Linked DNA regions of Homo sapiens: region 2 is linked to region 1. A link means that fine-mapping ties the variant in region 1 to the expression of a gene that starts in the linked region. Tissue or cell type: left ventricle. Region 1 holds a variant in brackets; the other region holds the start of a gene. All regions are shown on one strand. Distances are between the middles of the regions.

Region 1 (2,906 bases):
ATAGTGGCTCACGCCTGTAATCACAGCACTTTGGGAGGCCGAGGCAGGCAGATCACCTGAGGTCAGGAGTTCGAGACCAGCCTGGCCAACATGGTGAAACCCCGTCTCTACTAAAAAATACAAAAATTAGCTGGGTGTGGTGGCGTGCCTGTAAATCCCTGCTATTTCGAAGGCTGAGGCAGGAGAATCGCTTCAACCCAGGAGACAGAGGTTGTGGTGAGCCGAGATCGTACCACTCTACTCTAGCCTGGGCAACACAGCAAGACTCCTCTCAAAAAAAAAAAAAAAAAAGAATAAATGAGATAATGCAGTTAAAACACTTAGCAGAGGGCCTGCACTAAGGTCTCAATCATTGTTAGCACTCATTATTATTACTATTATTATTGTTTATATACCTTAACTTTAATTGGCAAAACAACCAAGAAATACGAGATAACTCTTTTGTTTTTTGAAATGAAGTTTCACTCTTGTTGCCCAGGCTGGAGTGCAATGGCATGAACTCAGCTCACTGCAACCTCTGTCTCCTGGGTTTAAGCGATTCTCCTGCCTCAGCCTTCCAAGTAGCTGGGATTACAGGTGCCCAGCTAATTTTTGTATTTTTAGTAGAGATGGGGTTTCACCATGTTGGTCAGGCTGGTCTTGAACTCCTGACCTCAGGTGATCCACCTGCCTCAGCCTCCCAAAGTGCTGGGATTACAGGCGTGAGCCACCACGCCTGGCCCAAGATAAATTTTTTTTTTTGGTGGGTGGTGGCGGGATGGAGTCTCACTCTGTCGCCAGGCCGGAGTGCAGCGCAGTGGCTCAATCTTGGTTCACTGCAACCTCCGCCTCCCAGGTTCAAGTGATTCTCTTGCCTCAGCCTCCCAAGTAGCTAGGACTACAGGCGTGCACCACCACACCCAGCTAATTTTTGTATTTTTAGTAGAGACGGGGTTTCACCATGTTGGCCAGGATGGTCTCGATCTCTTGACTTTGTGATCCACCCAACTCGGCCTCCCAAAGTGCTGGGATTACAGGCATGAGCCACTGTGCCCGGCCCAAGATAACTCTTAATATCCCATTGAGGATCAGAAAATTAAGTACTTTGTGAAACTAGCAACTAGCAGACCTAGGATTTGAACTTGATATACCTGACTTCAAAGTCCATGCCTTTTCCATGGCATCATCCTACCTCCTGTTTAGTTTATCTGAAGCATATTCCCTGGATGGTTGCTAATCCCTGGTCCGCCCATCAGCAGCAGGCATTATCATCCCCAGAGCCTGCTATCTTGTGTCAGGATTAGCACAGGACTTA[C/T]TCTATTCTTGTTTTAACACTTCAACGCCTGTTGGACCACTTAGCTCTTATTTCATGCCAAGGGATCCTCTGCCCTGTAGCACAGAGAAAATAACTGAGCTCAGAACAATGAGAACTTTTCCAGTCTTCTCACTTCTCCAGGTTCTTCTGATGACTCATCGCCAGGTAACTTCCTGAAAGTGACTCTCCCAGAATCCTAGCACACCAGGATTCTAACAGTAAACCACTTTACACATCAGTCATAACTCCAGATAGCTTCCACCAAAGGTAAGAAGAGTGCCGTGGTATAAAAACCATCAGAGCTGTCCATAAAATGTTACTGATGGTACTGTTCACAGCTTCAAAATTATATTCAAGGGAGGCCACGTGATAATCCTTCCTTGATTTAGCTCCAGAAAAAAAAAAAAAGTCCTCTCTAAAGTTGAATCTGTGTACTTTCTCTTACTAGAATAAGAAAATGATGTCACCCGACCTGTTTCCTTTTCTGTCGTGGCTTCTAAGAAACTTAAAGCCAAATTCTGTGCCAAAATGTCTCATCTCAGGTGTCCCACGGGATTTATTTCTGCTTCACTGCTTTGATCACTTTTATGTTTTATAATTTTAAAAACAGCTAGTCTCTACTGTGCGTCTCCTATATACCTGGCACCATGCCATTCCTGACATGCCTTCCTTCTTTCTGCATACATTTCCTGATATACCTTCTTTCTTTCCTGTATGCATTTCCAGCAAAGTTCTTTGACACCTCACCCACTTGTCTATCTACGTGTCTGTCTTCCTCCGCCCCAGTTATAAGCCTCTCAATGGCAGGCACCATGTCTTACCCATCCTTACCTGTTCTGCTCCTAACACAGTATTGCCACTAACGTGGCACTCAGTAAAAGTGCTGAATGAAAACATTAATGGATTTCTAATTCTCCCAACAACTCTGTAAAGTTGTTACTGCATTTTACAGATGAGGAAACGTAACATTCTGGTAGGTTAGTTAATTTTTCCAAGGTTCCAGAGTTTGATAAGTGGTTTCAAAGCTGGCCATTGTTTTACTAAACTACCCTAGTGCCTTATTTTTTAAGTTATGTTTTATCTTGTAGTCTACAACTCAACTCTCCTGGGAGCAAGCAGATACAAATAGTGGGTTAGTGGGTTAATGTATTAGTACTGCTAATAAAGACATACCCGAGACTGGGTAATTTATAAAGAAAAAGAGGTTTAATGGACTCACAGTTCCACATGGCTGGGGAGGTCTCACAATCACAGCAGAAGGCAGAGGAGCAAAGGCACATCTTACATGGCAGCAGGCAAGAGTGTGTGTGCAGGAGAACTCCCCTTTATAAAACGATCAGATCTCATGAGACTTATTCACTATCACGAGAGCAGCATGGGAAAAACCTGCCCCCATGTATCAATTACCTCCCACCAGGTCCCTCCCACGACACATGGAGATTATGGGAGCAACAATTCAAGATGAGATTTGGGTGGGGACATAGCCAAACCATATCAGTTAAAAAAGAAAAAGAGGCTCTATCTACCTTTATGCATCATCGTGATGAGTCAACCTGGCTTTATCCTTAGAGGCCACAAGATTGGGATGTCGTCCCAGGAAAATTGTGGGTCT
Region 2 (2,906 bases), 70 kb before region 1:
TTGCGGGGAAGGGCGGGGGTGGGGTGGTGCGGGTGGCGGGGGAGGGGCAAAATCCACAAAATTTAAGTCTTCTGAGAGCCAAACAGATTTTATTAATAAAAGGAGCCGAAGCTCTCGCTCAATGTGGGGAAGAGAAAGCAGCACCCATCAGCAGCCGGGCAGCCCTGGCTCGCCTCCGAGGGGCTCGGAATAGGTGCTGTCCCCGTCGCTGGGCTCGGAGCTCCGCCGCGCACACACGCCCCGCGCACCCCTGTCCGGTCCAGCCCGTGCAGCGCGAGGCCGGCTCTAGGGGAGCTGGGCCTGGGAGCCAGGGTCCTGCAGCACCTGGACCCTCGGACAGGAAGCGGCTCCTCTGACTGTGGCTCCTGAAAGGAGGCGAGCCCGGCAAAAAGAGCCAGCGGGGAGGGCAGCAGGCGACTGCGTGTAGAAGCGGGGGGCAGATGTGGGAAGGTGTGCTCGGGAAGGGGTGGGGGTAGTCCGGAGCTGCGCCTCCGCCGACAGAAGATGCTCCGGGCCAGCAGCCAGAGAAACGCCGCGGGTCACAGAGGGTGGAGGGCTTCAGGGAGCAGAGGAAGCCCAACAGCTGCAGCCGAGCGTCCAAAAAAAGGTGGAGGCGGGTCCCGAGCAGCCCAAACTGGGACGAGAGAGGGCGTGTGGGGGCGGGGAGGGGGTGCCCCAGCCCAGGGACCCGTTAGCCCTCCCGGCTGCCGGCCGAGGGCCTGGCGGCCTCTCCCCGGGCCCCCGAGCCACCGGGCAGGCCTACTCCGCTCGGAGGCTGCATGCCTCCCGCCGCCGGGCAGCAGCAGCCTCCCCGGGGCACGGCGGACCCGGTCCCTCCCGCCGCGTCCCCAGCGCTCGGGGCCAGCCCCGGCACCCTCCCATGAGCCCTTCCGGGCGCGGCCCCCGCTCCTCGGGCTCACGCGCGGCCAGCAGTCCTACCGGCTTCCAGCTCAGGGACCCGCCGCCGCCGCCGCCGCCGCCTGCGCGAAAGTCGGCGTCCCAGAAGCCGTTCTGGCTGCCGGCCGCCCGCCTTCCAGGCCGCGCCTGATCCGCCGCTCCCCCTGCCGGCCGGCAGCCATTTCCGACAGGCGACTGCGGAACTTGCCGAAGGGCGCCGCGCCGGAAATGGCCGAAGCCGGCGTTCGCGAGCGGGGGCGCGGACGCGGGCGCGCGCTCGCCACTTTCCCGACCGCGTCCGAAGACCGCCGAGGCCTCCCGCAGCTCCGCGGTGACACCCGGGTCAGGGGCGCGGGGCCGGGCGCCGGGGATTGTGGGAGGCGCGGGGGGGCGCGCCGGCCGCCTTCGGAGCCCCCCAACTCGCGTCCTGCAAAGGCCGCCGGGCCCTGTCGAGAAGACCCGACCGCAGATGGCGGGGAGGATGCTCCCGGCGGCGTGGGAACCGGGTCTGACTCCCGAGCCACCGCCGCTTCCGCAGGGGCGCCGGCCCCGGGAAAGTCAAGTCATAAATCCCTGAATCTAAAACTCCATTCTCAGAGAAAAGGCCTCCAAGGACGGGCGCCGTGCGCGGCAACTGCCTGCAGTTTTGAAGCCCTTTGACTATTTCATAACAAAGACAAGGCCGGGCGGCTTGGACGCTTAGGAAAATCCTGGGGCTTTGCAAAAACAACAGGTTAATCTAGTCGTGTGGGATGATCACCAAAACAAGACAGGAAAGAAGAACACCGTGTCAATGCTGAAAAGCCAGCCCCTGTGAGCCCCAAAGTGCACGTTTTCCACAGTCCCAAGGAACACGTGACTGTGTGTTTCCACACTTGAGAAGTCAGGATAAGACCCCTTGGATAATGGAACAGGGGATGGGGGTGGGAGCAAGCACCCTACCTGGTCACCTGCTTAACTTAGAAACCAGCTTTTAAAACCTGTAACTGCAGTATGAGCTACGATCAAATTTGTCTTAACGTATTTTTTTTAATGTTTTTAATACCCAGAACACAGGGCTTCTACTCCAGGGTTTCCTCGCCAGGGAACCCCAAACACACAGGACCTGGAGAAGCCGGGTAGAGCTGGCTCCTGGCCCTGCGCTTGGGTGGTCGGCTGCCTTAAGAAGAACTGCACCCCAGAGACAGGCTCGCAGCTGCCGACCTTATCCACTCGCCCTTTCTGCTGGAGCCCAGGCCCAGTGCTCCAGCAAGGAGGCTGAGAAAATGCTGAAGACTGATGCCCACGGGGGACAGCTTGGGCTAAGGATAACGTTTGCAAAACAAACCTTTAAAAACCCATAGCAACCTGTTTCCTAGAGCACACTCTTCATCTCTCCACCCCCAAACTAGTCCCGACTCGGATCCTCCTTTTCCTATCCTCTTTCTCTTGCTCTCCCGTCTCCTATTCACTTTTCTTCTCCTTTCCTCTTGATTATTATAAACAAATGCTTTCCAAGTCTTACCGCCATCATATGTGTACATATGCAACCCTTACTGTTACCAATTTGTTGAAGTCAAGACAGGAGGAGGCAAAGTTTAAAAATCAGAAGTATTGCAGGAAATGAAAATGGAGTGAGTGTTGCCTGGGTATCATAATTTTTTTTTTTTTTTTAACAGTTCCTCTACTTGGCTCTCCTCCAAAGGTACGCGGCCACAGCAGGCAGGGGCTTGGCAGTGTGGGAGGAGACACCACAGAAGACAGGGAAGAACTACCAGGCCTTGGTTCATCTCCACACTGGCGAGAGAGGACGTGCAGTTACCTGCTACCTGTTCGACTCAGTCTTTTACGTTGGAGTAACTTAACACATTGCTGCCCTTAACTTTGACTTACTTGCTTTTAAAGATGATGAAGCTGGCCAGGCGCCGTGACTCATACCTATAATCCCAGCATTTTGGGAGGCCCAGGCAGGTGGATCACGAGGTCAGCAGTTCAAGACCAGCCTGGCCAACATGGTGAAACCCTGTCTC

Alleles and levels. Positions count from the first base shown, and alleles are read on the strand shown. Sizes are in standard deviations (SD) of each study's normalised expression.
For the expression in left ventricle of the gene that starts at base 1,098 in region 2, T is the high allele of the variant in region 1 and C is the other (small effect, 0.31 SD a copy in GTEx).

The links. PIP is the estimated chance that this variant, and not a neighbour inherited with it, causes the effect.
Region 2: EXTL3 starts here. The variant in region 1 is fine-mapped to the expression of EXTL3 in left ventricle (GTEx, PIP above 0.99). The same link has a PIP of 0.9 or more in atrial appendage.

Annotation. Positions count from the first base shown.
Region 1 is chr8:28,629,940-28,632,845 of GRCh38, reverse strand. It overlaps a transcript of EXTL3 not described here. Among named protein-coding and RNA genes, the nearest start is that of EXTL3-AS1, 70 kb to the left of the region's middle. The variant C/T (reference allele first, on the strand shown) is at 1,295.
Region 2 is chr8:28,699,693-28,702,598 of GRCh38, reverse strand. EXTL3 (exostosin like glycosyltransferase 3) reads right to left here and starts at 1,098. Exons shown (of 7, transcript NM_001440.4): 1 at 940-1,098. It overlaps EXTL3-AS1 (EXTL3 antisense RNA 1), which reads left to right and starts at 1,135. Exons shown (of 3, transcript NR_126027.1): 1 at 1,135-1,239; 2 at 2,556-2,906. RefSeq lists silencers at 530-939, 1,040-1,109, 1,180-1,359.